Linked DNA regions of Homo sapiens: regions 1, 3, 4 and 5 are each linked to region 2. Evidence: fine-mapped expression QTL. A gene starts in region 2. Each other region holds a variant in brackets. All regions are shown on one strand. Distances are between the middles of the regions.

The links. PIP is the estimated chance that this variant, and not a neighbour inherited with it, causes the effect. A credible set is the group of variants that fine-mapping cannot tell apart.
Region 1: its variant is the best candidate, but not a certain one, in a credible set for the expression of SMC2 in whole blood (TOPMed, PIP 0.61).
Region 3: its variant is the best candidate, but not a certain one, in a credible set for the expression of SMC2 in sun-exposed skin (GTEx, PIP 0.54).
Region 4: its variant is the best candidate, but not a certain one, in a credible set for the expression of SMC2 in whole blood (TOPMed, PIP 0.65).
Region 5: its variant is the best candidate, but not a certain one, in a credible set for the expression of SMC2 in monocytes (CEDAR, PIP 0.56).

Annotation. Positions count from the first base shown.
Region 1 is chr9:104,123,421-104,129,672 of GRCh38, reverse strand. It overlaps SMC2 (structural maintenance of chromosomes 2), which reads right to left. Exons shown (of 25, transcript NM_006444.3): 18 at 4,568-4,761; 19 at 2,889-3,032; 20 at 2,193-2,387; 21 at 1-28. Among named protein-coding and RNA genes, the nearest start is that of SMC2, 32 kb to the right of the region's middle. The variant A/G (reference allele first, on the strand shown) is at 3,437.
Region 2 is chr9:104,091,349-104,097,623 of GRCh38, reverse strand. SMC2 (structural maintenance of chromosomes 2) reads right to left here and starts at 3,315. Exons shown (of 25, transcript NM_006444.3): 1 at 3,147-3,315; 2 at 2,072-2,300; 3 at 1,327-1,476. The coding sequence starts at 2,239. It overlaps SMC2-DT (SMC2 divergent transcript), which reads left to right and starts at 5,150. Exons shown (of 3, transcript NR_121580.1): 1 at 5,150-5,535. RefSeq lists enhancers at 2,695-3,362, 3,581-3,900, 3,363-4,032.
Region 3 is chr9:104,152,238-104,158,512 of GRCh38, reverse strand. No RefSeq gene overlaps it. Among named protein-coding and RNA genes, the nearest start is that of SMC2, 61 kb to the right of the region's middle. The variant T/C (reference allele first, on the strand shown) is at 3,024.
Region 4 is chr9:104,138,535-104,144,809 of GRCh38, reverse strand. It overlaps SMC2 (structural maintenance of chromosomes 2), which reads right to left. Exons shown (of 25, transcript NM_006444.3): 25 at 3,391-5,671. The coding sequence ends at 5,495. Among named protein-coding and RNA genes, the nearest start is that of SMC2, 47 kb to the right of the region's middle. The variant A/G (reference allele first, on the strand shown) is at 3,692.
Region 5 is chr9:104,486,026-104,492,300 of GRCh38, reverse strand. No RefSeq gene overlaps it. Among named protein-coding and RNA genes, the nearest start is that of OR13F1, 15 kb to the left of the region's middle. RefSeq lists an enhancer at 2,617-3,118. The variant G/A (reference allele first, on the strand shown) is at 2,556.

The DNA.
Region 1 (6,252 bases), 32 kb before region 2:
AGTCATAATCTTTCAACATTTTGGATACCTAGCCACATATAAAAATAGATGGGAGATCTATGAATGTTTACAAACCAATATGTATAAGCCAGTTTCTTAACTATTTAATACTTTTGAATCAAATACTGAAGAGGAAAAAACCTTCAATGACTAATTTTTTTTTTTTTTTTGAGATGGAGTTTCACTCTTGTTGCCCAAGCTGGAGTGCAATGGCGCGATCTTGGCTGACCGCAACTTACACCTCCCAGGTTCAAGTGATTCTGCTGCCTCAGCCTCCTGAGTAACTGGGATCACAGGTATGTACCACCACGCCCAGCTAATTTTGTATTTTTAGTAGAGACGGGGTTTCTCCATGTTGGTCAGGCTGATCTGGAACTCCCGACCTCAGGTGATCTGCCAACCTCGGCCTCCCAAAGTGCTGGGATTACAGGCGTGAGCCACCGTGCCTAGGCGACTCATTTTTAAAAATGAGTTTCATTACTGACAAGAATAAAGATGAATATTTTTACCTGGAACACAGACTACAGAAACAAGACACTGTATAGCAAAAGATCTTCCTATTACTTTGGCATTAGAAGAGCCAACTCACAGAGAAATTTTTACGAAGTATACGCAAAGCACCTCCATTAGAATGAAATGTAAGTCAGGTAGAACTCCTTCAGAATTTACCAAATTCAATCTATTGCTTCAAAACACAACTTATGAGAAGCTAAAACTCTTTTAATACTTAAGTCATAGATTTGGTAAAAATCATGGAAGCCTAATGCTGACTGAGACCTAATAATTTTTCTCTCAGAAATATATTCTAAGAAACTGCCCTAAACATTGACTCTATCCTGCTCCCCACCTTTTGAAAAAGGCACAGTATATTGAAAAAGGCACTGTATAATAATTTTTCATGTAATACAACTGATTATACAGTTCAAATTATAGTGCCTAAAGAAGACTTTCTTCTACTAGAATTATGATTCATTCTCACTGGCAGAATCCAATCCTTGTTAATTTATTGACTTGTATTAATTCCATGGATATGGTCTCACCTGTAGGCCCCAAAGTACAATTATCATTTCTAGTGTATCTTCCTTTTGACCTGTAAACTCTTTGAAAGCATCCTGTATGTGTTGCTCATCCTTACATTGTCAGTGCCTGGCACAGTATCTGATACTGGTAGGTATGTATAAATCTTTGATTGACTTCTTAGCAGACCCACTTGCAAGTCCCTCCTTTTACTCTTGTAAATAAAATCTCCTAGCAATCGCCAGTACTAGCATTTTCAATTACCAAAAAACTATTAGCAGTAACATTGCCATTGGTAGTATTTCAGTCAGTCCACTATCACTAAGCTAATGGGAAATCAATAGTAATAAAGTGGTAGATTATAATGTAGCCATGAAAAATGTTGTTTAAATCAAGTTCCACAGTTCTTTCAGAAGAGAGGGAGATTGTTTTGTATGTTCTTGATCTTTCTGAAGTTAAAGTTCATGTATTTTTAGGATGCTAAAAAAAAATATCCTGGACATTAAAAAGGTGCCAAACTGTTACACACTCATAAGAAAACATGCTAGATGAATTATTAATACCATGTGAATGCAGCTTCTTAACCAAGCAATGAATTTCTGCAAAAGCACGTGTTATCTTTAAAGCACTGAAGTAAAGGTGCTGTGACACATGAAAGAAAGAAACTGGGATAACCTCAAAAACATAGCTGCTTGGCAAAACATCAGATTTTTTATAAAGTTGCAAATACTGACAGCAGTAACACTCATAAAGACATGTGGAAGCCAATTCAGTCCTTTTTTTAGATTACCTGTATATATAGTTCTGTGAGTTTTTTAATTCAATTTGAAATAAGGTAGAGAATATATATCATTATTACTAGCACATCAGTAATTAGTTCTATCAACATTTGGAGGTGAAAAGTTATTTCCATGGGAGACCACTAAACATTTGGTAAATACATCCTGTAGATGGGAAAAAATATCTAAAGTTAAATCTAAAAATAAAACATTTGTGCAATTTGTTGAAAATTAGCATTGTTGAAAAGCAGTTAAAGCTGCAAGCTCAAATTTATGCCAGGCTGTAATTTTGCCATTTATATTTATAGAGTTCTCTATCAAGCAGTTTTCTAAATTTTTTCAAGAGCTCAGTAACAAAAATTTGATTTAGTATAAAAAATGCACACAAACGTATACCTTTGCAGCACCATCTTCAGCCTCCCGTTTATGTTTGCTGATGTTGTGGTCTAATTCCTTAATTTTAAGCTGAGAATCATTGTTTTGCTCCTTGTGTTTTGCCACTTCTGCATATTTAGCTTTAATTACAGTGTCTTGGGCTGTTATCACCTCTTTTTGCTTGGTCACCTCTTCTTGAGCTTTATTTACTGACTCCTAAAACAAAAAAATTAAAGAAAATATGTGGTGAGGTAACATGTAAATAATTTTAATTTACTAAACAATTATCTGACAGATCCCTGGGCAAGAGGGCAATGTGATTACAGGCAGAGAGATGATCACCTAACCCTCTATATTTTATATCACCATTAAAAGGACTAATCAATTTATACACAGAAGAAAACTTGGATCATCCCTGGTAAAAGGGGTGGGAGGTACAATGCTCATGCTGCACGCTCATGCTGCAAATGAGAGCGTTTTTTGTTAGATGTAATGTAGATGGAATCAACTAAGTGAGGAAGAAGAGGGACTGCTAGAAGCTGACTGACCTATGTGATCCCAAAACTGGCAATTCTGGATGAGTAAAAGCTATTTGTGCCTCATTCTCTCATGATGACGAGTGAAAAGACTGAGAACACTAAAGTCAAACATCTTAAGCTAATGTTTCATAAAAAGATTCGCATTTTCAATTTCTCGAATTTGATAAATAAATCCTACCTTATTTTTAGCCACCTCAGCTGCCATTACTTCAATCTGACTTTCATAGGATTTGATAGCTTCATTTACAGCTTCAAGCTGTTGTTTGTAAGATGTATGCTCTCTCTTGAGCTCTTCCAGTTCCAGAGTGATAGCTTCAACTTCCTATAAAAAATACAGTATTCAGGTATTCATATAGGTTATTAACTACTGAAAAACAAATATGTACAGAACAATTAAATAAATAATAATCTCATGCAAGTAAGACCCACAGCTTTGTTACCACTCAGCTACCGAAAGTACAGGTTAAGCTGCTTCCCCAGAAAAGGAAGTTTATTTTCCTATATCAAAAAAAAAAGTATGTGTAATTTTTATAGGTTCAAAGAACTCTGCATAAATTATTTTCTTTATCCTTTATTCCTATAGGGAAAATAATATAACATTCTACGTAACAGATGAATTACTGGAAGTAAAGCTTTTTTAAAAACAAAATTGTTCAATGTGTAAAAAGTTTCTCAATATTCTTCTTTCCCACTATAGCCTTCAGTTCATTAGAAGAGCAGTCCCCA[A/G]CCTTTTTGGCACCGAGGACCAGATTTGTGGAAGATGATTTTTCCATATGGCGGGCACAGGGAGAGAGTATGGTTTCAGGATAAAACCACCCCATCTCAGATCATCACGCATTAGATTCTCATAAGGAATATGCAACCTAGATCCCTTGCATGCACAGTTCAGAAAAGGGTCTGCACTCCTCTGAGAATCTAATGCCACAGCTGATCTGACACAAGGTGGAACTCAGGCAGTAATCCTCATTTGCCTGTCACACACCTCCTCTGTTACTGGTCTGTGGCCTGGGGGGTTGGGGACCCCTGCATTAGAAAATACTTTTTACAGCTATTTAATGACAAGAATCTTAGAGTGGGCTAAAAAAAAATGCGAGGGAAATATATTTAGGTGAAATCGCATAAAAGTGATTAACAACGTAGCCTTTGGAGACAAAAACCTAGGTTCAGATTCCAGCTTTGGCATTAGCTAAAAGATATAACAAAGTATCATCAGTTTACAACTGAATGACACCTTGTAAATATAACATGCTTTGTCTTCCATTATGCTCTCACAGTGCACATTCATTTAGGTGCTTATCAAATAAAAATGTCAACTTGCTGAATCTCTGATATGACATCCAGAATATCAAATAATCCACTCCTGAAGAAAGGCCATCCACTCTTGAAGGAAGCATTTACCAACCGTCAACTTTGCCCTTTCCTTAAAATTAGCATCCCCTACTCACAACTATGAAACACTCGATTGCAGGGTTTTCAGAGAAAAATACAGATTAAATATCCCTTATCCAAAGTGTGTAGGACCAGAAGTCTTCCAGACTTCAGATTTTTTTTTTGGATTTTGGAATATTTGCATTATACAGAGTAACTGAGTATCCCAAATCCAATCTGCTCCAATGAACATTTCCTTTGAGCCTCAGATCAACACTCAAAAAGTTTCTAATTTGTATTTTGGATTTGAGATGCTCATCCTGGATACTCCTTTGACTTGTAAGAAGCATAATTTGTTTCCAAAGAACACTGCTCCCTTTTAGATTCTGAGATCAATTCTGATGAATAAGGTCAACCAATGATGCTCTACCACCTTCAGCTCTATGTTGACTTTAAAAGGTTGGTTCAATTTCAAAAAGAAGTTATTACCTGTTGTTTTTCTTTCATCTTCTTGCTAGATGCATCTGCCTTTGTTTTGGCACAATCCAGTTTTTTCTGAGCATCTTTCAGTTCTCGCTCTCTTTCAGCTTCTGCATTTTTCATTTTATTTTCCAATACTTCATATTTTTCTTCTGCTTTTCTTTGGATTTCTTTAGTGTTTTTCAAAGTCTCCTCACTTTCCTCTGCATCACAAAGTAAGCAAATGTGGCTAAGTTAACAATGGTAAAGGTTGACAAATTCAACTTTTAATAGAAGAAATGGTTTGGAAAATTACAGGGTACAATTTAAGAAAATTAACTATCCCAATGATATTCTAGAAATGGTATAATGAAACACAGATCCTACCCAAAAGCCATACTTGAATTATCTAAAGATCTGTAACAAAATAATTTCTTTTGCTATGAAATTGAACTTTACCTACAACTATCCTTTTACAAAGGTATTGAAGCAACCTATTAAAAAAAAAAAAATCACAGATCATATTTTTAATGCAATTGTATGCTTCCTAAAACCAGAACAGTATAACTATGGTATTTTTTCTATAGTTGCTAGAAAGTGTGTAATTTCATAAACAAGCTTACTTTATGTTCTTTGCCTATTTTATACATATTCAGGGAACTTCTCATTAAAGTCGACAAATAATATGACAGTATGCCTGGGATACAGCAAAGGAAAAACATCCCCAAATCTGTGAAAGAAAAAAATAAGGTCAGGCGTGGTAGTTCATGCCTGTGTAATCCCAGCACTTTGGGAAGCCAAGGCAGGCAGATCATGAGGTCAAGAGATCAAGACCATCCTGACCAACATGATAAAACCTCATCTCTACTAAAAATACAAAAATTAGCTGGGTGTGGTGATGCACGCCTGTAGTCCCAGCTACTCGGGAGGCTGAGGAAGGCACCTGAACCCAGGAGGTGGAGGTTGCAGTGAGCTGAGATTGCGCCACTGCACTCCAGCCTGGGGACAGAGAGAGACTCCGTCTCAAAAAAATAAATAAAAGGGCAATACTGAATGAACACGTGTTGCTGTAACAACTGATGTATATTGTGAGTGTTAGGACCCAGGTGCAAACATAACCTTGGAAGTCATTACCGCACAATTTCTTACACTACTTTTCACTGCAGAAAATACTATTAAAATATTAGTGGAGAAGCACATGTGTGGATATTGTCCTAATGAATGACAAAAATTTAAACTACCATATACAATTAAATTCTAAGGAAAACATATAAGCTATCTTAAAATTAGGGAAATGGCTATAAAGTGAATTACACTAAATATTAAAAACTTTTGTAAAACAAAAATACTATGAACACAAAATTAAAAGACCAGTACATAGCCAAAAAAGATGGTAAAAGGATATTTGCAATGCACATAACCTACAGGAAATTAGGACTCTTAAGCATGAGAACAGTGGGAAAAAAACCATGAGCAACCCATGGGCAAAAGAAATAAACAGAAAATTCACACAAGTATAAACCCAAAGGTCCAATGAACATACAAAAAAAGATCCCAAATTTCATCAGCAATTAGGGAAATGCAAATTAAATGCTAATGCATGCTATCTTTTCACAACCAACAGATTTGGAAAATTTTAAAAGTCTGGAGAAAAAAGAACTTGGAGAAATGTTCATATGCTGCTGGTGGAAATGAGTATTGGTAAAAACGAACAG
Region 2 (6,275 bases):
ATTAGTAAGAGACTTAGTGACAGTTCCTAAAGGATAAATATTTGATGGATGCCTAATGACATGGAACAGGATTCTGTCCTAACGTGGCCTACGCTTCTTTTTTTTTTTTTTTTTTCAACCAGAGGCTTCCATTAAAATAGAGGAGAAAATCTGTAAGTGATAAATGATAAGATGGACAGTAAATAGGAGTTGACAACATTTTTAAAAACAAAATCTTGGGCCAGGCGCCGTGGCTCACACCTGTAATCCTAGCACTTTGGGAGGCCAAGGCGGGCAGATCATGAGGTCAGGAGATTGAGACCACCCTGGCCAACATAGCGAAATCCCGTCTCTACTAAAAATACAAAAAACAAAAAAAAATTAGCCGGGTGTGGTGGTGGGCACCTGTAGTCCCAGCTACTCAGGAGGCTGAGGCAGAAGAATCTCTTGAACCCGGGAGATGGAGACCAGCCTGGGTAACAGAGCGAGACTCCGTCTCAGGAAAAAAAAAAAAAAAAAAAAAAACCTTGACAAGCTGAAAACACTGCCTGACTATATTAATAACACACCTAAAAAAAAATTGAGTGGTTTCAAGTAAATCTAATATGAATCCACAATGTATTATGAACACCCCAATGCTCTACTGGGAAAAATAAAAGTAGAATATCTAAAATGAAAGAATAACTCCAACTAGACCAATTTTGGTACACCCAATCTAAGGTGCCATTAAAAGAAAGAAAGATAGATGAATGCAGGAGCAGGGAGGGAAACTGGAGCATACTTGGTATAATCAGGCAAGTGAAGGAACTAGGAACAAACATCAAGTGAAAGACCTGGCAAGATTTCACTTAGAACTAAAACACATATACTTGCACATCACTTAAACACTGAAGTAGGGAATAAGTTAGATTTGCTCTTGGTGCTCTCAAGAGGACTAGGATTAATGAATAAAATTTGAAGACAGCAGACTCTGACAAAACTTATAGCTGTTAACTTTCTAATAAGACCTGTCCAAAAACAGAATGGGTTATCTCAGAAGATTGAAAGATCTCAAGTACACAGGTGTTCAAGAACAACCAAAGAAGATTCAAATATGGTTTAAGATTTCAGCATAGCTGAGTGCTTATACTGGATGAACAACTTTTCAGCTGTCTTTCAATCCTCTTAGTGATAGAATGTGCATGATCAAGATTTTAATATAAGGAAGACATTAAGGAATCTAGTCAGAATTTAAGGCACCAATTTTGCTCATGAACTTTCTCTAGCACGTTTTGCAAAGGCATAGGGCCAAAAACCACATCAGACATAAAAGGTCTTAAGATACCCAAAGGTTTAATTGCCACTCACCTGCCTTGTTACTGTGATTTCATCATGAACCTCAAATCCTAAAGGACTTTGCTTTTTGTCAGAATTATCAAAAGTGATTGACACAGAGGCTTTGGTAATACCAGCCTGCCCATTTTTGTAAACTAAATCTTGTAAATTAGAAGCCCGAACCTAAAATAAAATATGAAAAGTGTAACAATTACAAAACTCCCTACCGTACAAAGCAGCACTAAAAATGGGTCCCTTGCTGTTGGAAAACCCACCAACGTAGTGTCCATTAAGTAGACAAGGTTAGGCAGCTGCATCCTCTGGCAAGAAAAACAAGGAAAATAGGCAACAACCTGCAATGGACACTTTTCTCTACAGAACCTTTTCAACCCTGAATTGAATTGTTTCCTATTCATTTTTTAATAAAAAGTTACTTTGCAAGATATAAGGAAATACTGTCCCAAAGATTTTCACTAGTCATTCAATCCATTAATAGGATTTGAAAAGGCATCATTACACAGGGTTGAAAATACTCTGGAATGAGACTGCTTTACAGTCAGAATGCCTGAGTTTTGAGGCACTGTTACTTCTAAACATCTCTAAGTTTCTATTTTCTCATCTAAAGGAGTAATATTACTTTCCTTAAAAGGTTGCAGTGAGGTGTAATTTACAAAAAGTATAAAAACACAAATGAAGAGAATATCGGGACGTCTCCAAAGTTCAGTGAGGATTCTCCTGCCAACTTAAATTCAAATAAATCAGAAAGTTTACACTTTACCTGAGACAGGTTGGAGATGCCCAGCAAAAAGCAGATGGAGTCCAATATGTTGGATTTCCCACTACCATTTAAGCCAGTGATAGCATTGAAGAGGGGGTCAAAACCATTGACTTCGGTCCTCTGAGCATAGGACTTGAATCCCTCTAGAATAATTGACTTAATATGCATTTTCGATACTGTCTTGGGTCAGCAAACCTCTGACAGGAATCAAACAGGCCACAAACCAGTTCTGTACGAAACAGAAATACCACCACCTAAGTGGAATGTAAACCTGGAATCATAATGAACACGAGGCAAAAACAGCAACGATAGGGTGATAGAAATAAAACAGCCACTTGACAAACTATCTTGTCTGATGTAAAGACATCGTTCATCTACTCAAAAATATACCAGAGTTAGCCACTATCTGGAAATTAAACCATTCAACTGGGAAGTCTTAACTATTTCTTCTACCCGTTTTTCCAGGCTTGCCTTCTACTTTTATCATACTCTACCTAAACAAAGACTATGGATTATTACATATCCCATTATCTTTGCCTATAATGTGCTTTTCTCTGATACTGACATAGCTTACTCTCTACTGCACTCACGTCTTTGCTCAAATGTCACCTTACTGGAGTCCTCCCTGACCTCCCTATGTCACCTCTCCACAATCCTTCACTCGGCTTTCTTTTTCCTTCATGGTACTTAAAGCTGATATTAGACGGTCATTACTTGTCTGTAAGTTCCCGCAGTGTCTTCACCTACGTCCGTCATTGCATCCCCGAATTGTGCTTGACTCCGGGAGGAGGGGAAGTCATTTAAGTATTTACTAGAGATGAGATGTATCTCATATTCTCCAACTTCTTGCTTTTACTCAGGCTTTTACCTCGCTTCTCCAGGCCTGTCTACACCTCTTCGCCCTACTCCAAGGTCGAACAGAAGCTAGCCTTTATTTCTAAGGATCACCTAAGGTCCCTCTGCCACTGGTCCCCCTCCCTACAGCCCCCGCGCCCCGCGCCCCGCCTCCCGCCTCCCGCCTCCCGCCAGGAAGTCTGGCCCGGCCCAACCGGCCGTGCTCACGCACACGCCTCACCGCTGCCTCAGGCCAGGGGCTTGACGCACCCCAAAAGCTCCTCCGGGTCACAAAGGCAGGGAACAGAACAACTCTCTAGCCGGGGCCGCTACAAAGCGAACTTCACCATAGCGGCTACAACACCTGCCACACCGCTCTCAACACCCGCGCCGGAACTATTTATTCCTTTGAATTTCGGCGCGAGCAAAGGACCCCACCTCCATTGCTTATTTCCTGTGCTGGTGCCTAGGAGCTGCCTGTCTTTAGGGTTCAATTTTTCCCCTACACTCGAAGGATTAAAGCCGCAGGGCAATAGAATGAGAGTCTCGATAATGGTAGCTCCGGGGACTCCCCGGCAGGGGCCTGGGCACTACAGGAGCAGATAGTGTATGTTCACACCGGCGTCCGGCACTCTATGGTCAGCCCCACACCTCGGCCCCGGGTCCTCGCGCTTCGCCAGCCCCGCCCCGCCTCGGTCCCTCTAGTTCGCGTTAGGCACACTGCAGACTCCGCCTTCTCCAGTCTGCGGTGCTGGCTGTGGCTTACTTTTCTCTCCTCAAAGCGACAGTTAGGAAGTGGAGAGGCATTCTATGAGTGTTCTCGTCGGTTCTGTTTTGGAAGCTTCAGAATCTTCTCGGGTTGGCTCAGATTGCTGCAAAATAAAAGCTGTACTTCTTGGGGCCAGAGAGGCACCGTCCTTCGGGGGACTCTGGCCCGCGTCCTGGCTCCGCCCCGTACTGGCCTCGGACCTCGGGGAGCGTTTTTATCTGAAGTTTCCACGTCGGAAAGGGATCGTAGTCTACCGAGAGCTGTTCCGAGCCCAGAGGAGAAATTGTGTGGTGCTAAATAGCTATTCATCTCCCTTATACCGGAAAGCGTTGTAATGATAAGCCGACCTAACCTGTTGGGGATTTTTTCTGGAAACCTTTTAAGACAGTTCATGTTATTGAGTTCTGAATATTAGGCTATATTGCAAGGGGCTTTTTAAAATCCACGTAGCAACCCTATGAAATCAGAAATTGCCCTCGTTTTACAAATGAGTTAAATGAGACCAAGTAAAAGGTTAAACAGCTTGTCTAGTAAGCTGGGATTTGTTCCCAGGCGGTCTAGCTCCAGATTGCATGCTTTTAAATACTAGGCTTCATGCATAGAATCTAGTATTATTAGCCGATCCTATTATTAGTATGTATTGTTCTTTAGGAAGAAAAAACGTGTCAGGATTGCTCACGTTTCCAAGCACGTTGATACTTAAGAGTTAGGAAGGGCTTAACTCCGAATGGGTATGGTGTTACCCTAAGTGAGGTTCAAAAAGATGGTGTGGGCAACAATGCTATTTTGGAATGGCTTGATCCTTTTGGGCTTCCATAACAAAATATCCTAGACTGGGTAGTTTATGAACCACAGAAGTTTATTCTTCACATTTCTGAAGGCTGGAATGTCACAGAATAAGGTGTGTCTAGGGAGGGGTGCTTTCTCTTTAGTGGATAGCACCTTCTGGCTCTGTCCTCGCATGGTGGAGAGGCAGAGGCCCTCGCTTGGGCCTATTTTATAAGGACCTTAATCCCATTCCTCACTTCCCAAGATGCCACTTGCTAAAACCGTCAGTTCGGGAGTTAGGATTTCAAAATGTGCATTTTGAGGGACACATTTAGACCATAGCGTAGGTCATGTTTTTAAAGTTGCTTTCTTGGCCCTGGAATGGCAATGCAGTCATCTGAATTGGTCTTAACCTACCAGGAATGGGCTTATATTTTGAAAATATTTCTCGATAAGGGAGTAAAATAAGTTGTATGGGTTTTTTGTTTAAGAAAGGATTCCTTTGTTTACTCTGGTATGCTTATCCACTTCTGTGATGTCAACCATGGGTAGTGACCTAACATTAATTTAATTCAACAGATATCTTTGTCTGCCTTGATTCCTGCATCCCCTGGGCTCCACAGCTATTCACTTGTATTGATTCTGTTAACTCTTACACATTAACTTTGAGCTGTGTCTCCTTCCTTTTATCATTTTGTGAGTAAAGAATTTTAATTTGCCAACAAATCCTAATGTGGACTTTGTCACGTTGTGAAATAAAGTGATTTTTTGGTATGGAAATATGTGTTAAGACAGACTGTTAGTCTTTGCACTTTAACAACTAGCTGATACACTTACGTCACATGGATGAAAACATACACAAGTGCACTGTTGTTGGATAAGGACTCCTGGGTGGTTAGAAGAATGTGCAGATCTAACTACTCCCATTAAGACCATTGATTAAAATGAAAAATGCTTATAAAGGTGGAGATCTCTCAGTTTTAGTCTTATTGCGTGCCAGAAGCACTAAGGAATTGCTGCTAAATATAAGACAAATGGACTTGAGGAAATCACTGATGACTAACTTGAAACTCTGCCTCCTGAGATCACACAGGTGAGTGGAAAAAACCAAGGCACAAAGCCAGTGAAGCCCCCTAATTTGGAGATGTGAGGGGTAGAAACAGAGAGTATAGGGTAGATGCAGTGTACAGAAAACACTGTTCTTGCTTCATCACCATGGATTAAAATCGTTTGAAAGCTTCAACGCTAGCGGGCAGTGTTTCAAGCAGAAATCTGGCAGCTAGTGGAGTCTGAGTCCTTATATGGAAGGCATCATCAGTACCAGCAAGGACACACATACAGCCACAAAGCAAGACCTAGGAGAAATATTTGGTGCTCTACTCTCCTAGGGAACTGGAAGGAACCTGCTCTCTCCTGGGTATACTTTTCTAATTTTAGAGTGCTAAAGAAGCTCTTCTCACAGGGACCCGAGTGAATCCTTTCTCCTTGGAACAAAGGACAAGAAAAAAAGAAAGGACTTTACCGCAGAAGTAAGGAAGACTCATTTTGTTGAGAGATTATTTTTAGGTTCAAGGAAATGAATTGATAATGACAGGAAGTTTATATTTTTACATTGGATTGACTAGCAGCACTTTTATTTTTTCAGAGAAGGAGTCTCACTCTGTCTCAGGCTGGAGGGCAGTGGCCTGGCAGCACTTTTTGAATACACTCGTGCACCACATAATATTTCAATGTCTGATTACATTATGTGACTGTGGTCCCTTAAGATTATAATGGATAATTCCTGTTGCTTAGTGATGTTGTAACATCGTAGTGCAACATACTACCCTTTCT
Region 3 (6,275 bases), 61 kb before region 2:
AATATACTACTATAACAATAACATGACTGAATTATTTGAATATAAAAAACAATAGCCACTATTCTAGAAGTGATTTCACATTTTTGCATACTGTCTTCAAACCTTTTATGTAACCTTTTAAAACTCCACATGGTAAAACAAATATATATATGTAGTATTTTCCTAAAAGCAATAATAAATAATGAGACATGCAGGTTTGTGCTTCACCAAGAAAATCTTTGTAAGACAGTTGGGACCAAGAGAGTTTGTTTCCCCCTCAAAATATAATTTTCTTTCTGACCAGAGGGGAGTGAGATAGGTGAGTGGACCATGCCAAAATTGATTTAACATTGTCTAAACAGAGTCCCATCAACTTTTCAAACTATATAAAACTATGCTCCTGATTGATGAAACTTAACTAGACATGTGAGAAGCAGCAGAAAATCTGACAAAACGTTGCCTTGAATTATTTTGTAAAAATAATTGATTGGCATCAGAAACACCAATTACATTGGTGCAAAAGTAATTGTGGTTTATACCATTGAGGGGAATAGCAAAAACTGGCCAGGTGCAGTGGTTCACGCCTGTATTCCCAAAACTTTGGGAAGCTGAGGTGGGCAGATCACTTGAGAGCAGAAGTTCGAGACCATCCTGGCCAACATGATGAAACTCCGTCTCTACCAAAAATACAAAAATTAGCCAGGCATGGTGGTGCACACCTGTAGTCCCAGCTACTCAGGATGCTGGGGAATGAGAATCCTCGAACCCGGGAGGCGGAGGTTGCAGTGAGCCGAGATCACGCCACTGCACCCCAGCCCGAGTGACAGAGTGAGACTCCATCTCAAAAAAAAAAAAAAGTGAAAAATGTAATTACTTTTGCACCAAACTAATATGTTTACAGTAAGAGTTATAGACATAAAAGAATATTACCAATGAGAGAAAAATAAGTGTGGAACAATGTTATATGTCATTCCAATATAAATCCTGTTTTAGTCTAAAGTTGATTTGTCATGTGTAGGTTGTGAGAAGTCCACTAGAGAACTCCACTACATAGCAGAGGTAGGTCTATTACACTACGGAGGATGCAATAAGCAGTAGCATGCATGATGGAATTTCTGCTCCAGGACAATTAAATAGGAAGGTCTCTTCCATAATCTCGATCAAAAATAAATGTACTCAAATACCTTTATGGTGCTGACACAATGGAAAGAAAAAATTGATTAATTAGAAAAGAGTAAAATAGGAATGGTCTAAAAGGGTTACTCTGGAAATAGAAATGTGAGTGGACAGTGGGAGGAATAATTTTCTTTTTATAGGTATAAAATGTAAATTTTGAATTTCTTTGGCCATGCCCATGCACACATTATTTATAAGAGAATTTAAAAATATTTAAAATAAGCTGGGCATGGTGGCTCACTCCTGTAATCCCAGCACTTTGGGAGGCCAAGGAGGGGGTGGATCACCTGATGTCAGAAGTTCAAGACCAGGCTGGCCAACATGGAGAAACCCCATCTCTACTGGGCATGGTGGTGAATGCCTGTAATCCCAGCTACTTGGGAGGCGGAGGCACGAGAATGGCTTGAACCAGGGAGGCATAGATTACAGTGACCTGAGATTGCACCACTGCACTCCAGCCTGGGCAACAGAACGAGACTCTGTCTCTAAATAAATAAATAAATAAATAAAATAATTATAAAGAGGTAATTGAAAGCTTGAAAAGAAAAAGAATACCATGGTATAATTCTAAAATTTTATCAATGTTATTAGTACTTTATACCTGTTTCACAGGCATGTAAAATGCAAAAGCTGTATGTTGTTTGGTGCATTTCTTTTTTAAGAAAATGGTGAATAGCAGCCTCATCTAAAAAACATCTACAAAGTGACAAAGTGATGCCAATCCCTCTCCAAATAACTGCTGTCTACTTATTTTGTATTCTGAATCGCACCAGTCAAAACTAAGAAAAACTTATATTGAGACCTTTTAACACCAAATTATATATATACAATTATATATATATATATATATATATAATTACATATATACAGCCTATGTGTGTGTGTGTATATAACATATAACATTGGTCCACACGTATTTTTCTCTCATTGGAAATGTTCTTTTATGTCTACACACACACACACACACACACACACACACACACACATACACAGTAAAAAAAATACCACTTGAAATTCTGTGCTTTCATTGCAGAAAGGAATTTGAATTAAGAATGGCAATTTGGGTGAGAAGTTAAAAACTAGAACTGAAAATCTATGAAATCTATGACCATATGTTTTCAGGGAAAAATATATATCAAAACATGAAGATTACTAATTGCAGTTTCAGTAGATTTTGTCACAAACTGCACATGGCTCAAACAGGCTTTTGTACCAACACACTAAACTGTTGTTTTTCACTTTAAAAGATTTAGTGCTAAGAAATGATTTCATTTGTGGCAGTTGCTACATTTATATACTTACTGTGCAGCATATCTTTTTATCTGGATTATTTGATAATGTTTCCTGTGAAATGTTGGAAATCATCATTATTTAAGGAATTTGGAAGTAACTATGCCTACTTAGTTTGGTATTACTCTTTCAAACTTTTTATTTCCTTTCAGAGAAAGAAAAAAAAATGACTTAAGTTGCTCACTAGAATATTTTTAGCTGAAAATATTATAAGAGTCCAAATTTTCTTCTCAGATTAAGCAGAAGGTCAAAGGCTTAGCCTGGGCTATAGCTCTGGGGAATGAAGGCTGGACCTAGGAGTAGGGTAGAAACAGGGTTTCAGAAAAGAAATTGCATTTTGGGAGAAAGCTGTCCTGTAGAAATACTAGCAAAAGACCTACAAGGGCATGGAAGTGATTCAAAACCAAAAGAAGCCCGCCGTGGTGCAGATTTGTAGTCCCAGCTACTCAGGAGGCTGACACAAGAGGATCACTTGAGGTCAGGGGTTCAAGACCAGCCTAGGTAAGATGGTGAGACCATCCCATCTCTAATAAAATGTTTTTAAAAAAGAAGACCATGAGAAAATAGGAAAATTAGGT[T/C]TGTAGTCAGCAAGACTTGAGTAGATAGCTTCAAGAGAGAAGAAAAGAGGAAAGCAACAGAGGGATGGATGAATGAGAGAAGCCTCAAAGAGAAGTGGTGATTCTGACATAGTTACCTAGACTCTACGTCCCAACCATCGAATATAGGCCAAATTTTATTCCTGTTTTGGGTTCTGAGTTAGGTCTGTTGTGGTATCCATAGGTTGGACAAAGTAGGGGGCAGCAAAAAGTGTAGTAGATGTTCATAGTATGCCTGCAGTTGCAAAATGAGTGGATTGACAATTTTTACATTGTGAATTTGAGTTTGAATATATCAGTTTGCATATTTAGCTATGGATAATGCTTTGTAACAGAAAGCAAATCAGAAGGCCAAGATAGTTTTCAGTGTGGTTCCTTTCCACTGATTTTGTCTAAAATCCAGGGAACACCTTGGATTTGCCTTAGCAGTATTTTTCTCTCTGTTTAGAAAATTAATTATGTCGCTGGTTTTTGCTCTCGTTAGAATTGTGCTAAATTCACAAGGTTAGATCATGAGTCCACATCCACATTAAAAAAAAATTTCTCACACCGCTTTTCTCCTGACTGATGATTGTTTGAGGATCTTCTAATTTTCCAGTCAAATCAGATTTGTTAGGAAGACAGAGTTTAAAGTCAAATACTTTTCTCAATCCAGTTGTAGAAGTGCCTTTCCAGCTTCTTTTCTTGATTCCATTTACACAATCTATAACCCAGGCATATAGAAATGTTTGTAGTCTCCAACATTTAATGTTTCATATTTTCATGCCTTATGCATGTCCTTCCCTCTCCCCTGGAATGACATTGTCTTTTGCTGCCAGTAAAGGTTCATTCATTTCCCACTCTCATCCAGAAGTATTAATCATCAGAGCCTCTATGCCTATAGCTGTCTTACAAATAGACTACCTGTGATTTGGTTACAAGTACCGTAATGGATCTCCTGAAAAGCCATCTGCTCTACCTCTTGTCCAAGTGCTTGAGATTTCCTCAATTATAAACTCATGAATCTTTAATAAAATGAAAAACTTTTTAACAAGTCTAACACTTTCCATTTAGAAATACTTGTTTAGCTAGAAGAGATAACTTGAAATGTTCCCAAAACATAGATACCGTAAGTACTCAAGGCGATGGATTCCCCAAATCCCTTGACTTGATTATTACACACTCTACATATGCAACAAAATATCACATGTACTCCATAAATATGTAAACTATTATGTATCAAGTGAAGAAAGAAACATTTGTTAATCTCTCTGTGTCAGGTACTATGCTAAGTATTAACGATAAAGAGATACATTAAACATTCTCCCTGTCCTCCTTGCTTTCCAGGGGGTATAACACCGAGAGAATATAATACAGTAACCATCCTGAGAGGTCTTGACTTACTGAAAAAATATGAAAGAGGCAGCATCTCAAGCTATCTGCAGCAAGGCCTCAGTAGACATAGCATTAAATCTGACACTTGAAAGATACACAAACAATTTCTAGACAGAGATTGAAATAAAGGGCTTGTAGGCAGAAGAAACAGACAAGTAAAATAGGATGGAAAATTTGAGTAATGCACAAAAAATATATATAAGAAAACTGTAAATAACCAAGACACAGAGTAGGTAGGGGTAGTAGGCAGCACACATAAGGGAGAAAGTACTGGGTTGGACATTCAGAGACAAGAAGTTCCTTGACATTCCTAAATTTAAATTGCCCCACAGTGAAAATAATTATGGGGTTGAATCAGATGAGCTCTTAAGGAGATGTGTGTGTGTGGTTGGGTGGAGGTGTGATTTAATTTATACAATTCTTTCCTACTATGTTTCATGTATTGTTAGGTAAAAGGAAGACAATTCAAAAAAACAGAAATCTTAAAAAATGTTTTTTACTACAGTGTTTCATGTGAAGGTATTATACATCACATGTGAGGTGACATAAACAAGAATTCACTAGTTCAGCAATTCCTGATTGATAGAAAAACTCCTAAGTGCTAAGCACTTATTTAGGCACTGAAAACGCTGGAATAAGCCTGCTCTCTGAGTCCAAAGAGTTTGGTTTGTTGGGGTGACAAATTAATCCATAAGACATGATAATATAAGTGTAAATGTACATTTGGAATAGTATAGAATAATTTTGATTTATGTTAGTGGTGATAGAGTTTAACGTTTTTTTAGTACCTTGTATGTGTCAAGAAACTGCAAGAACATTTACTATGTTCTAATTTGTCTAGCAATCTATCTAGTTGATATTATCAATGTCACCAATTTCACATTATGAAAGAGAAAGGACAATAAATAGATTACATTTAGCTTTTGTACAGGACTTTGAGAAATTCAGAGCTAGACCTAAATGGGAAGAGCTATTCCAGCTAGCTGTTCTTAGTCCTGAAGTCAAGAAGGGTGTTCTGAAGCTGTCACTCTTCAGGGAGATGGGGAAAAAGCTTTACGCTACATAAAGTACAGTAGAACATACATGAGAAATCTTAGTAAAAATCCTCTGAGCAAACTGTTACTGTGGAAGAAACTTTTGTCAGAGAATAATGATCCTATATAAAAAGCATATACACTTTCATATGCTATAGTGTAGTCCTCCTCAAACTGCAGTTTGAGGACCTCTGGGGAGGGGTCTTAGGATACATTCTCAGGGGTCTGTTAACTTCTCAATATTTTAAATTTTGTGCTTTTTCTTTCGGTAAGTTTAAAAGTGAATATAAACATGTTTAAGGCTCATCTTAATAAATAACTTGTATTCTTGATACAAGTGATTTCATTGCTTGCCTTTATAATTGTATAACAATATCTTTAGCATGAAGTAGGAATGCTTTGATGCAATTGAGCCATTAAATAAAAGAACAGAGGTGTTTTTAGCATGTACATGGTTTTGTCTTAGTAGGTGATGGCAAAATAGCATACTGTACAAGATTACAGTGATGTACATTGAGAAAAGTGGTGGGAAAAATAAGTCATTACATGGCTCATAATACATGTTATATGCTCTGTATATCTGACTCTCTATGCTGCAACTTTATTTCACCCCTTTATCTGCATGAGATGTTGAGCTAAATTGTGGTTTCATGGTTGTTTGTAGTCATTGTGTATTTTTTGCTCTTTTAGTTTAAAAGAATGGAAGGCAAAAGAGTTCATTTCGAAGTTTATGATCCTATATATTTAAGTAAATTCTGTGTAGAAAGTTTTTTTCCCTTTAGTTTTTACATTATTAAATGGCATTTTAGAAACACATGTTGAAAAA
Region 4 (6,275 bases), 47 kb before region 2:
CTCGGCCTCCCAAAGTGCTGAGATTACAGGCTTGAGCCTCCGTGCCTGGCTAAGACAGCCTTTTCAACAAATTGTGCTGGAGCAATTGGATATCCATAGGCCAAAAAAAACAAAACAAAAAAACAAACAAAAAAAAAAAACTGGTCACCTCTGGCTCCTTTCCATGCTATGGATACATCCTTACTCAGTAATCAGGGCTCAGGCTCAGGTTCTGTTAGTGTACTGGTGTATGTTATAGCATTAGGAATGCTGGTGCCCTGTTTTAAAATAATGACCTCTGGCAAAATATCAGAACCACAACTAACAAAACCTTGAGGGGCTGGCACTTTGACACACCTTTTATTACATGAGTAAGTATCCCAATGGCAACAACAAAAACAGGGACTGGATTGTTGTTAGCCCTCTGTGTAGGGGCTTCATGAATAACATTGTACGAGAGAACCTGAGTGAATGCAACTATGCCATTAATAAGACTTGGTCACTGTGGTCTGTGACAGAATGAGGTCCAGAATGGCAGATCACTTTGTGGCCATGGCCACAGCTTAGGAGAACCTAACAAAGGTGTTATGCATCCAAACCATCCAGATCTCTCAGAGTTGACTCCATCTATGGGATAGGGGTCAGGCTGAGTTGGGGCAGTAACCCAGTCTGTCTATCCCTATCCTGAGGCCACTACCTCTGCAGGCCCCATTGCCCTTGTTACTTCACCCAGACCTTTTGGCCTCAGTGGTCTAGTCCAGGAAGGGAGGTCAGGTCCTAAACAAACTTGACCTATCTGATAACATCGCCCACCACAATGGAAGGATCAGATGTCTGTGACCTGTACACAAATGTTTACGGTATTCATACTAGCAAAAAAACTAGAGTCAACCTAGATATAAAGATACACACAGGAGTATTATTTAGCGTTAAAAAGGACATGTTATTTGTGACATGTATTAACATAGAAGGGATAATGCTAAGCGAAATCAAAGAGGCACAGAAAGACAAATACTCTAATGATCTCACTCATTTGTAAAATCTGAAAAAGTCAAACGCATAGAACCAGGGAGTAGAATGTGGTTGCCAAGGGCTGGGGAGCAGGGGAAGTGGGGAGATGTTTATCAAAGAATACAAAGTCATAGTTATGCATGATGAATAAGTTCTGGAGATCTGCTGTACAGCATGGTGACTATAGCTAATACTGTTATATATTTAAAATTTGCCAGAATACATCTTAATGTTCTCACCATACACACAAAAAAGGTAATTATGTGAGATGATATGTTAATTAGCTTGATTGAGGTAATCATTCCATAACATATACAAATATCAAAACATCACACTGTATACTATAAACATTACCATATCCTGTGGTACTACCCTTGAAATGCCTCAGACATTTCAGCCTCAGCCATCCAGTCCAGGAAGGGAAGTCACTTCTTGAATGATGACATGTCTGACAACATTGCCCAGCCAAATGGAAGGATCAGATGTCCCTGGCACTATCAGAGGGACTCTAGCATCCTGGTATTTCTTGGTCCTGTTTCCACCCTTGAGGGATCCCACAGGGAGTGCACCTGAGGGAAACGCTGACTCCAGATTAAGAGTTAGGGGGGCCTTTTGGGGTACTGTGGCAGCCTGAACTGCAAACCACCCACAGGATGTGCACTCTAAAAAGAGAAAATGGCTGGGAACACTGGAATTTGGATTTCACAGGCAGAGGCCGTCATCTGGTCCACCTGTACCTCCTCCAAGCTCAGTGCTTCTCAACATGTGCTGCAATCATGTGGTTCCCTTGCCCTGGAGGGCAGTGCTCAGTGTCCATACTGCCATATTCGGATGGGGTGGTACCACCCCACTTGTAGGCTATCTTGGTGTCCTTCCTTCACTCATTGTGAGCTGGCTTTCCATTGTTCAACAGCTCTATTGGACTGAGGATGACAGGGTGCATGGAAAACCCATTGTATTCCATGAGTGTGCCTGCTGTCATGTTCCTTGGGCAGTAAAGGAGGTTCCTTGTCAGAGCAAAGTTTTACAGGGTATCCAAAAACATAATTTAAGTTTCCCTAAAAGGTGGCTATGGTATTCCCAGCATCCACAGGTGACATGTATTTGTCCTTGCCAGTTAGCAACCTTTTGCCATACTCCTTGTAACCACACAGATCTTTTTCCACTTGGTTGTCATTCACCTGACCAGATAGCAAGGCTGTTCTTTTTGACAACTAGTGAGAAGTGGGGAGAAGTGGGTCAGTCCAAGGTCACCTGGAGAACGGTCTTGCAGGTGGCAGTTCAAATCACAATTTAATTTTATTATGGTAAACTGCAAACTGCTTGTCTTTTTCACAAAGATTCTCTTTGATGAAGTTCTAGCCAGGTTCTTCTGAGCCCTTTCTACGTCTAAATAAACCTTTGCCTGTAAAGATCTGAAAAAAACACTAGCAGTTTCTAACAGCTCAAAGCCACATCCATAGGTTGACTATCCTCCTCCTGAAAGTCAACTCCTGAGAAAACTCAAGGTTGCTGAGTTTACTGTTTCTTCCAACCAACACTTGAAGGTAGAGTCCCAGTCTCTGTGGGAGGGTAAGAGCCTACCTTGGCATTAGAGCCAGTTAACAAATCTAAATGGGTTTCACATCAACCAATTCCCTTTCCTGTTTATATCCCTGACTCTAAGCCCCCACTTATCCTCCTCTATTCCCTCATTCTCCCTTTAAGACACCCAGTCACCTCAATACAAATCAAAATTGAGTTCAGTTCATACTGGACTCTTCTTATTTCAAGAGTATGTTACTGATTTAAATCTATCCTTACTGTTTTAACTAGTATCTGGCTTTATCTTTGATGTGTTCTGTATCTAGAGTTCAGGGGTTAATTACTTTCGCTGACTTCATCTACTAAGTAAGTCTGGGGACCTCTTTCTCCAGGTCCTCGTTTATCCCTTCTGAGACGTCTCCTTCACTTTCTGGAAGCTGTGGTTAGCCCAGATCCCATCTTTTAGTTCTCCAGACCAGAAAGACCCCAGGCTTTCCACTGCAGCCTTAGCTGTCCTACAGCTGCATCATGACTATAGCTGGTACTTAGGTTAAAAACATTAACCTTAGCTTGTGCCTGTCTCTTCCTCCGTATTTTATCTCCCATCCAAAATCTTTCTAGTTTTTCTTCAGTTTCCTGAACTCTCAGGTAGTTGTTTCTAGTATTTTGCTCAGAATCTATATTTATCATCTGTGGGAATGTTGGCCTTTAGATTATGCCACCCTATTGGAAGAGAAAATTTCATGTCTTTGCTTTGCATTTGCTGTGAGCTTACTTGAAATGCCAAAACCGCCACCACCACAATGAATCCTCTCTTCACATGGTTGAGGTTCTTCTTTAAGGTAACATTCACGTTGTACATACTGCTCATACAGGTATTTTTCTTAAATTTATTCTGTACAATAAATACAAATGTTCAAGCTGTCAGTGACGTAGTATATCTTAGGTTCTGGAGACTGACAAGATTTGTCCATGGGCCCTGACACTCCTAACTGTATTATCACCCTGAGCAAGTTTCCTAACTTTTCTGCTCAACTCACTCAATTCCTCGATTACACCATGCTGACAACAACAGTATTTACCTCACTAGGTTACTCTGAGGATTAAATATGACAATACATACAAATGAGAACAGCAGCTAATGTAAAGAAAGAGCTTGTTAAATATTAGTTAACTC[A/G]TATTACTGCAGATGTGTGAAACAAATGTCCCCAATCCCCTTAATGTCTTCCCTCTAATGAAAAAAAGTTACAACAATTTAATACATGTTTGAGGGTTTTCAAAGATCAAGATTATACAAGACAAAAATCAGGAACGCACACAAGCAAAACATTTTTAGCAGAGAAAAGGAAATGAGTACGTAAGCCAAAATAGTCAAACTCCCAAATTATTTTTAAAACGTTGGCTAAAACAGCAATGAAGTACCACTTAATAACTAACTGTTAAATCAGAAATATTAAAATTAACAGCAAGTACTGACTAATTTGTATACTATGGTATACTTTAATATTGACAGTGTGAATTGGTAACTGTTTTGGCACAGTCTGTAATACATTTGAAAGGAAACAAAAAAACTATATTTGACATTGGACTTTCTGTAACTCAACATTTACAGCATTATTTCCTCTCCCCTCCACAGTGGACAGAACTAATTCCAGATTCAATCCTTTCCAATGTGTCCCATAATATCAATTACTGCATGTTTTCTGACATCTCATATGTATGGAGAATGAAGGGTGGGAAATGTCAAGCCCAGGGCCAGGAAGTACGGCCATATATCAGGGGAAGTATGATAATAACACTAAGGAAATAAGACTAAAAAATCAAGAAGAGATGTGGGGCCAAAATAACACATGGAAGATCAGATTACATCATGTCAGACCTTTCATGATTCAGTTTGGGGTCACTGTTCTAGTGATGACGTACCAAAAACTGTAGACAGTATTCTCATGGTGTTCGCTAGTGTCATCTTTCAAGTTCTAAAGGAATTTCATCCCTTTGAACTGGAAAGCGGAAGACAAATAATCATCCAACTTTTGAGTTATTTTGGTGGAACAGATGGATTGAGTTATTTATATTTATACATATATATATCAGACTCAGGGAAAAATAAATTTGGTTTAGTCTACTGGCACCTACATTCTTGTTTACCAATAGGTTGTTAATGACTGGATTATGAAAAGGCTGACAAAAATCTTGGAAAATATTAACAAACTTCAGATAAATTTGCAGCAGATAGTACCACGCAACACACCTCCTAAGCTTTGATTTAAAAATACTTACACAGCTTAAAAAAACAAAAACATTAAAGTCGTAGAGACCAATTATTAAGCGTATAGGAACATGATATTCATGTATCATTAAAACGTAGAGACCAATTATTAAGCGTATAGGAACATGATATTCATGTATCATTAAAATAAGGATTCTTTCAAGATCTGTTTCCTATCTCAGTCTAAATCAGGGGTCTGGAGTTGTGGCCTTAAAAAACTAGCCTCAAACGGCTCCATGCATGCATAATAGCTTTATATGTGTTCCCTTTGTTGGTCCAGTTACCTGATTTATAATTCTTCCTTACCTGAATGACTTTAGAAAACACATTAATATTGCCTTAGGAATTAAATCAATTAAACACTGATGATCAGCTACATTTATCATGTAATTTAATCTGCTTTTTTGTATATTAGCTTTTACATATAGAATCGGGTATCTCAGGATCCCTAATATATAAAAGACCCGCATAAGAAAAAAACATTTGATGATATGCATAAAATCACAACCACAATAATTGGACCATAATTAGACTAGTTAAGAGATGAGGAATATATGCTCATTTGTAAGCGATAAGTGATTATATAAAGAGAAAACATGGGTTAAGTAACACAGTAACATTAATTTTTGTATATAAACAAATTAGTTATCTCAAGTCCTTAAAAGTTTACATTTAAAAAAACAGGTCAAGATGAAGAAATAACTTTGTAGTTTAAACTTCCACATGTGCTCCTTTGGGTGGTTTTGCCTTGGATTTTGCTTCCTTTGAAATCTTTCCATTTTGACATTGAGTAAATCTGGCTACTGTAGAAACACCATCCACAAACTTGGTTTTGAAAAGAACGTTTGCATTGTTGAACATACCTTCTTTTAGTGACACCACAATGAACTTAAGGAAAAAAGAAAAAAGTATAAAAAAACTTTTTGTGATATACTTGAAGTTTACTCCTTTATACTGGTGATAAGAATGGTTTGGAGATAATTTTATTTCTTTAAATAGTTATATGAGGCACCTAAATGAATGCTAGCTGTCCATATTGTTTTAGAAGTCTCTTAATTTTACTTTGGGTACTTCATTACCCAATTTTACTATTTCCTGGTGGTTGACTGCTTGTTGCTATCTTTTGTAGCTGGCATTCAGTTTTGTTGCTAACTAAAGCTGCTCTAGTGAGATATTTTTCTTGTGACATTTTAATATCAAAGAAGGTTTCAAGTTCCTATAGCACACCACTAGCCCAAACAGAACTTCTGAATAATTAGGCACTGCCCCGCCGCCCCATTCAATGTTATTTGCCAAAACACTGCTATAATAAATACACAATCCATGGTAACTATGAGTGGAGTCCCCAGAGTTGTACAATGCATAATTTATGCAAGCATATTTGGCAGCCCCAGCTCCTACAGCAATAGTGCATTAAAAACAAACTGTTCTTAGCTTCAAGAGGCTTTCTTTGTTCTACTTTTTAGCCATGAGAAATTAAATTTCCCCATCA
Region 5 (6,275 bases), 390 kb before region 2:
TACTGGAGATTTGGACTTCAACATATTAATATTTGGGAGGCACAATTCAACCCATAATAGAAGGCCTTAAAACTATTTCCCAAGTTGGGATTTTAAGTATCCTCTGGTGGATTTCTTTCATTTTTTGTGTGTGTTGGGGGGTGGTTAAGTTTTATGAGATGGTCAACATGGCCATTGTATAGAAATGTTTGAAATGTGTCATTAAATCTTTATGCTAAAAAGCAAGAATAAATTATTTCTTTTTCTCTTTTTCCTTCCTTCCTTCCTCCCTTGCTCCATCTCTCCCTCCCTTCCTTCCTTTTTTTTATACATGATGTCGTGCTTACATCTGGTACATGACTGAAAAATTATGAGTCAGAAGAAAATAGAAGGGGCTTAAAAGTAGGACAGGATGGGAGACAGAGATTGTAATATATCAAAATGTTGGCACTCATACTTCATGTTTTAAAGAAAAAATGGCAACATAAAGCCTCATTAAGTTCTGAATGACCAAGTTTCCTACAGCAAATATTCTAAGACCTCTTATGTGTGCCCAGTTTTCATTTTTTGTTTTTGTTTTTGAGCCTTGAAGAGCACTAGTTTCTTATCTCATAGGCAAAGGCAAGATGCTCCTTGTAATGTTATTCTGTATTCTATTTTCTATCCAAGATGATGTCCATCAGGAAATGATGTTACCTATAGCAGCCAAACTGGCCACTTAAAAGACTGCCCAAGAAGAGGATGTTAGCAAGTGATTGTGCTTTAGCAATGAAATGAGTCAACTGCAGTTACCTTATAGCTGGGTTTTAGTGTTGTATAAATTTGTCTTCCCAACATGTGTTATTTACATCAACTATATTTAGAAAAATATTTTGCTCATTAATATCCACAAGAAACTTTTGAAAAATACTTTCTGTGTGAAGGCCCAGTTTCCAGCCCAGAGAACTTTGAGCTGGATAAGGCATGATCTCTGTCTTGAGGAGGAGTGTACCCTCATGGAGTTGAGCTCATTTAATAACCTGGATATACACATGTGCATGTCTGCAGCACGAATGACCTGAATGCCCATTGTGATCAGTGCCAGAATACAGGGCAAGTGTCAGATACTTTGCAGGTGGTTGATGAAGATACCATGTCAGCCTGTGGGTTATTCTTGCACTCTTGCTATTCCCTCTTTTCTCAAACCTCATTGACCATTCTGCTGGCCACTTTTAAGGGTCAGGCAAGTGAGGGTACACATAACACCTGGGTATGTCTTTGAGCATATCTGTTGAGTCATGATTGTCATCATGATTAGTGTCCTCTTCCCCAATGAAGGACAACTCTTGAATGTCCTCTCTTAACCTTAATGTGCTCATTAATTGTTTAATTCTTCAGCATTCTCAAATAACATTATTTTAATACTTAACTCTTTTCACTGGCTTAAATTTATTTTCAAAACCCTCAACTTAGCTTCATTTAACAGCTTTTTAATGTGTGGAATGATGGATTCCTGCATATAAATGTATAGTTTATTAATGTAATGGAGTCACATTGCCGTGGAAGAATTCTTCCTAATTTTATGCCAGGTTAACTATGCTTCTGCAGAGAACACTGCATCTTTCAGATGCTCTGCCAATGGATTTAAGTGTGAGACCGGCTAGTATAAGAGAATGCAACCACAGATCTGGCCGGAGAACTGCCAGTTAAAATATATATTACTAAAAATAGCCCTCTCCCTCTCCCCTCTCCCCTCTCCCGTCTCCCCTCTCTCCACGGTCTCCCTCTGATGCCGAGCGGAGGCTGGACTGTACTGCCGCCATCTCGGCTCACTGCAACCTCCCTGCCTGATTCTCCTGCCTCAGCCTGCAGAGTGCCTGGGATTGCAGGCGCGTGCCACCACGCCTGACTGGTTTTTGTATTTTTTGGTGGAGACGGGGTTTGGCCGTGTTGGCCGGGCTGGTCTCCAGCTCCTGACCGCGAGTGATCTGCCCAGCTCGGCCTCCCGAGGTGCTGGGATTGCAGACGGAGTCTCGCTCACTCAGTGCTCAATGTTGCCCAGGCTGGAGTGCAGTGGCGTGATCTCGGCTCGCTACAACCTCCACCTCCCAGCCGCCTGCCTTGGCCTCCCAAAGTGCTAAGATTACAGCCTCTGCCCGGCCGCCACCCCGTCTGGGAAGTGAGGAGCGTCTCTGCCTGGCCGCCCATAGTCTGGGATGTGAGGAGCCCCTCTGCCCGGCCGCCCAGTCTAAGATGTGAAGAGCACCTCTGCCCGGCGGCGACCCCGTCTGGGAACTGAGGAGTGTCTCTGCCTGGCCGCCCATCGTCTGGGATGTGAGGAGCCCCTCTGCCCGGCCGCCCAGTCTGGGAAGTGAGGAGCGCCTCTTCCCGGCCGCCACCCCGTCTGGGAAGTGAGGAGCGTCTCTGCCCGGCTGCCCATCGTCTGGGATGTGAGGAGCCCCTCTGCCCGGCCGCCCAGTCTGGGAAGTGAGCAGCGCCTCTTCCCGGCCGCCATCCCGTCTGGGAAGTGAGGAGCGTCTCTGTCCGGCCGCCCATCGTCTGAGATGTGGGGAGCGCCTCTGCCCGGCCGCGACCCC[G/A]TCTGGAAGGTGTGCCCAACAGCTCATTGAGAACGGGCCATGATGACGATGGCGGTTTTGTCAAATAGAAAGGGGGGAAATGTGGGGAAAAGAAAGAGAAATCAGATTGTTGCGGTGTCTGTGTAGAAAGAAGTAGACATAGGAGACTCCATTTTGTTCTGTACTAAGAAAAATTCTTCTGCCTTGGGATGCTGTTAATCTGTAACCTTACCCCCAACCCCCTGCTCTCTGAAACATGTGCTGTGTCCACTCAGGGTTAAATGGATTAAGGGCGGTGCAAGATGTGCTTTGTTAAACAGATGCTTGAAGGCAGCATGCTGGTTAAGAGTCATCACCACTCCCTAATCTCAAGTACCCAGGGACACAAACACTACGGAAGGCCACAGGATCCTCTGCCTAGGAAAACCAGAGACCCTTGTTCACATGTTTATCTGCTGACCTTCCCTCCACTATTGTCCTATGACCCTGCCACATCCCCCTCTCCGAGAAACACCCAAGAATGATCAATAAATACTAAAAAAAATAATAATAAAAAAAATAAAAAATAAAAATAGCAATAGGAGCCCTTGTAGTAAGACATGGCCAAAAATGAAAGGCAACATACTAAAATAAGACATCAGCCGTGCCTTTGCAGAGTCACACAGACGGAAGATGGCATCTCATTTGTTTTCACTTACACTGTTTTCCTAGGATTCAGCACATTGCTGGTGCTTTGTAAATACATGTTATCAAACTGTATAATTGAACAGATTGAAAACAGTTAACCCAGTAGTTCTGAAATTGGAGGTCCTCTTAAGAACTATTTAAAGAATCAGCAATTTATTTGATAAATGACTTGCAGGCAGGTCACAAGATTACAAGTCTAAATGTTTTTATTATTAATGTAATTATTTTTAAGGATAAACAAATAGAAATTGATAAATGTAATTGAAGTATGGTCTTCAAAGTCCAATCAAATAATATCAAATCTGAACATCGGTAAATTAATACACCCCAAAAGTTGTATATCATGGAATAAATTTAAATTCTTTGTAATGCTTAGTATTTTTATTTTACATTTTTATTTATTTATTTATTTATTTATTTTGAGATGGAGTCTCATTGTGTCGCCCAGGCTGGAGTGCAGGGGCGCAATCTTGACTCACTGCAACCTCCACCTCCTGGGTTCAAGCGATTCTCTTGCCTCAGCCTCCCAAGTAGCTGGGACTACAGGTGCATGCCACCACGCTTGGCTAATTTTTTGTATTTTTGGTAGACACGGGGTTTCACCATGGATGCTAACTTAGTATTAACTCACCGTAGTGCCTAACATGGTGTGCCTGACTAGCACATGGAGTTGAATCACACTTAGCCAGTTCTTGGTAAGCATTTATTCATTTAAAACTGAAGGAGAAATGTCCAAAACATGGCCTCAAATAAAAATCAATGAAAATTTGTTCATAATTAAAACTTTACACAATTATGGCAGATGTAAAGGTTTCATTCAGCATTTCTTCAGTTCCTACTTTGTACCAAGTATCCAGACTTAATGATGCAACTTATTTTTCTGAACTTTATTATTTGAAAACAACAATTTTTCTTATTATGTTGATTTAGATTATATTGTATATGATTATCTATTAATTATGATTAATAGAGACAGAGTTTCTTTTATTAAGCTCCTGTTAGAAACAAACTTCTTCCCACTCCGAGAAAGATCAAATTATTCCTACCCTTTAGAATTCCTGAATTCCATAAAAAATTAATGCCCTGAATATTTCAATTAGGAAATATGTGCAGTAATTAATTTGTTTAAGAGCTCGGTAAAGAGTCTTTCAAAGACACTCAGTTCAAGGAGGATGTTAATGATAACAAGAGGTCTCTCAATATTGACATCATGTTTGTGCTAAGGTCATAGACTGTCATTATAACTTCAGTGTTTTGACATGTGCTGACATGTTTAACTTGCTGAAACACATTTAAATATTTCTGTAAATCACCTACCAAAAACGAAGACTATGCTTAACAAGTATCCTTGAGAAATGACTGCAGCATCCATCATGAAGTCATGTTACAAAGAGTCAAAGTTGCTAGTCCTTTTGCAGAGAATTTCCTGTGTGTCCTAATGGGACCAGTGAGAGTTGGTGTTGTCGTTTCTGTAGGAGTCATGATAAAGTGTCTTCAATGCTTGTAGGTAGATAAAATCATTCTCCATGAGAGTATCTCATAGGACTCAGCACACAATATCCAAGAGTTTAATCATGTACAGACATAACCATACAGTTTACAAACTGGTACGAGGATAAATGACTAAATTATGGACAATGTCCAAGCTTTACTAAAGTGGCCAGGCTATAAGAAGGGAAAATTGTCACTGAATTATCTGCAAGGTGCATGCTCCCATTAACAAAAGAGTGGCCTTATCTGCTTGAGTCTAGAAAAGGAGGAATTTTGTACCACATAGAGACACTTTATCTAAAAGACAGTCTGACCACTAGAAAATGAACAGGATTAGGGGACATGGAGAAACCATTAGCTTTTCTTTATCTTTGTTGAAATATTCCTCAAGAGTATCCTATTTCTTTTCTCTGATTTTTTGTTACTGACAAACTTTTGACAACACATCCATTTCCAAACTACCTAAGTATCTGGTATCTAATGGCAGGAGAAGAGTGTCCTGGGCTTGTTGGAAGTGTTTATTCCTTGGTAAATTAGTAAATCTGCTGTTTATTCTTCCATGGTAAATTGATAAATCTGTTAGTGTCTGCTTTATCATTTATCTCTTGAGAATTTGGTTGTTATGAACCAGCCCCTAAGAGGCCAGTTAACTCTTGCCACACTGATAAGTTAAATTTCTGAGACCAAAATAATTAAGGGGGCCAGGTATGGTGGCTTACGCCTGTAATCCCAGCACGTTGGGAGGCCAAGGAGGGGTGGATCACTTGAGGTCAGGAGTTGGAGACCAGTCTGGTCGACATGGTGAAACCCCATCTCTACTAAAAATACAAAAATTAGCTGGGCATGTTGGCAGATGCCTGTAATCCCAGCTACTTGGGAGGGCTGAGGCATGAGAAACGCTTGAACCTGGTAGGCAGAGGCTGCAGTGAGCCGAGATCACGCCATGCCCCCATGACCCAGACACCAGTTCCCACCTTCAACACTGGGGATCACATTTCAACATGAGATTTGGAGGGGACAGACATCCAAACTGTATCACTATCCGTTGATTAGTAGGTGACTTTAAACATCCACATTTTCTCAAAAACAGACTTTTCAAAGTCTTTAAAACAAATCTACCAACTTATAAGTACATGGATGAGGTCAAGTCCCTTTATATATCTTGTAGTTTGCAAGACACAATTTGATACTACATGTCCTAGCATGCCAATATAATCCTTCTGCTATTGCCCTCCTTGTAAACCTGGGCCCAATCAACTATCACATTCCACCTTCATGCCTCAGTTCTTCCAGGCTTTATAATGGAAAGGGCTTGTGCCCGGTGCAACGGTTCAGTATAACAACAGCAATAAAAAATTTATGAGTGATTATTATGAGCTAGCCAATATGCTGGATACTTTAATACATATTTAATTATCTAATTAGCTCTTCACCCTGTGAAACAATTTCCATTTTACAGATTAAGTAATAGAGGCTTTTCATAATAAAATAACCTGTTCAGAGTCACACAGTGGAATACGTAAAGTTTGAGCCTAGGCTTATCTGACTTTAGGATCCAGGCTC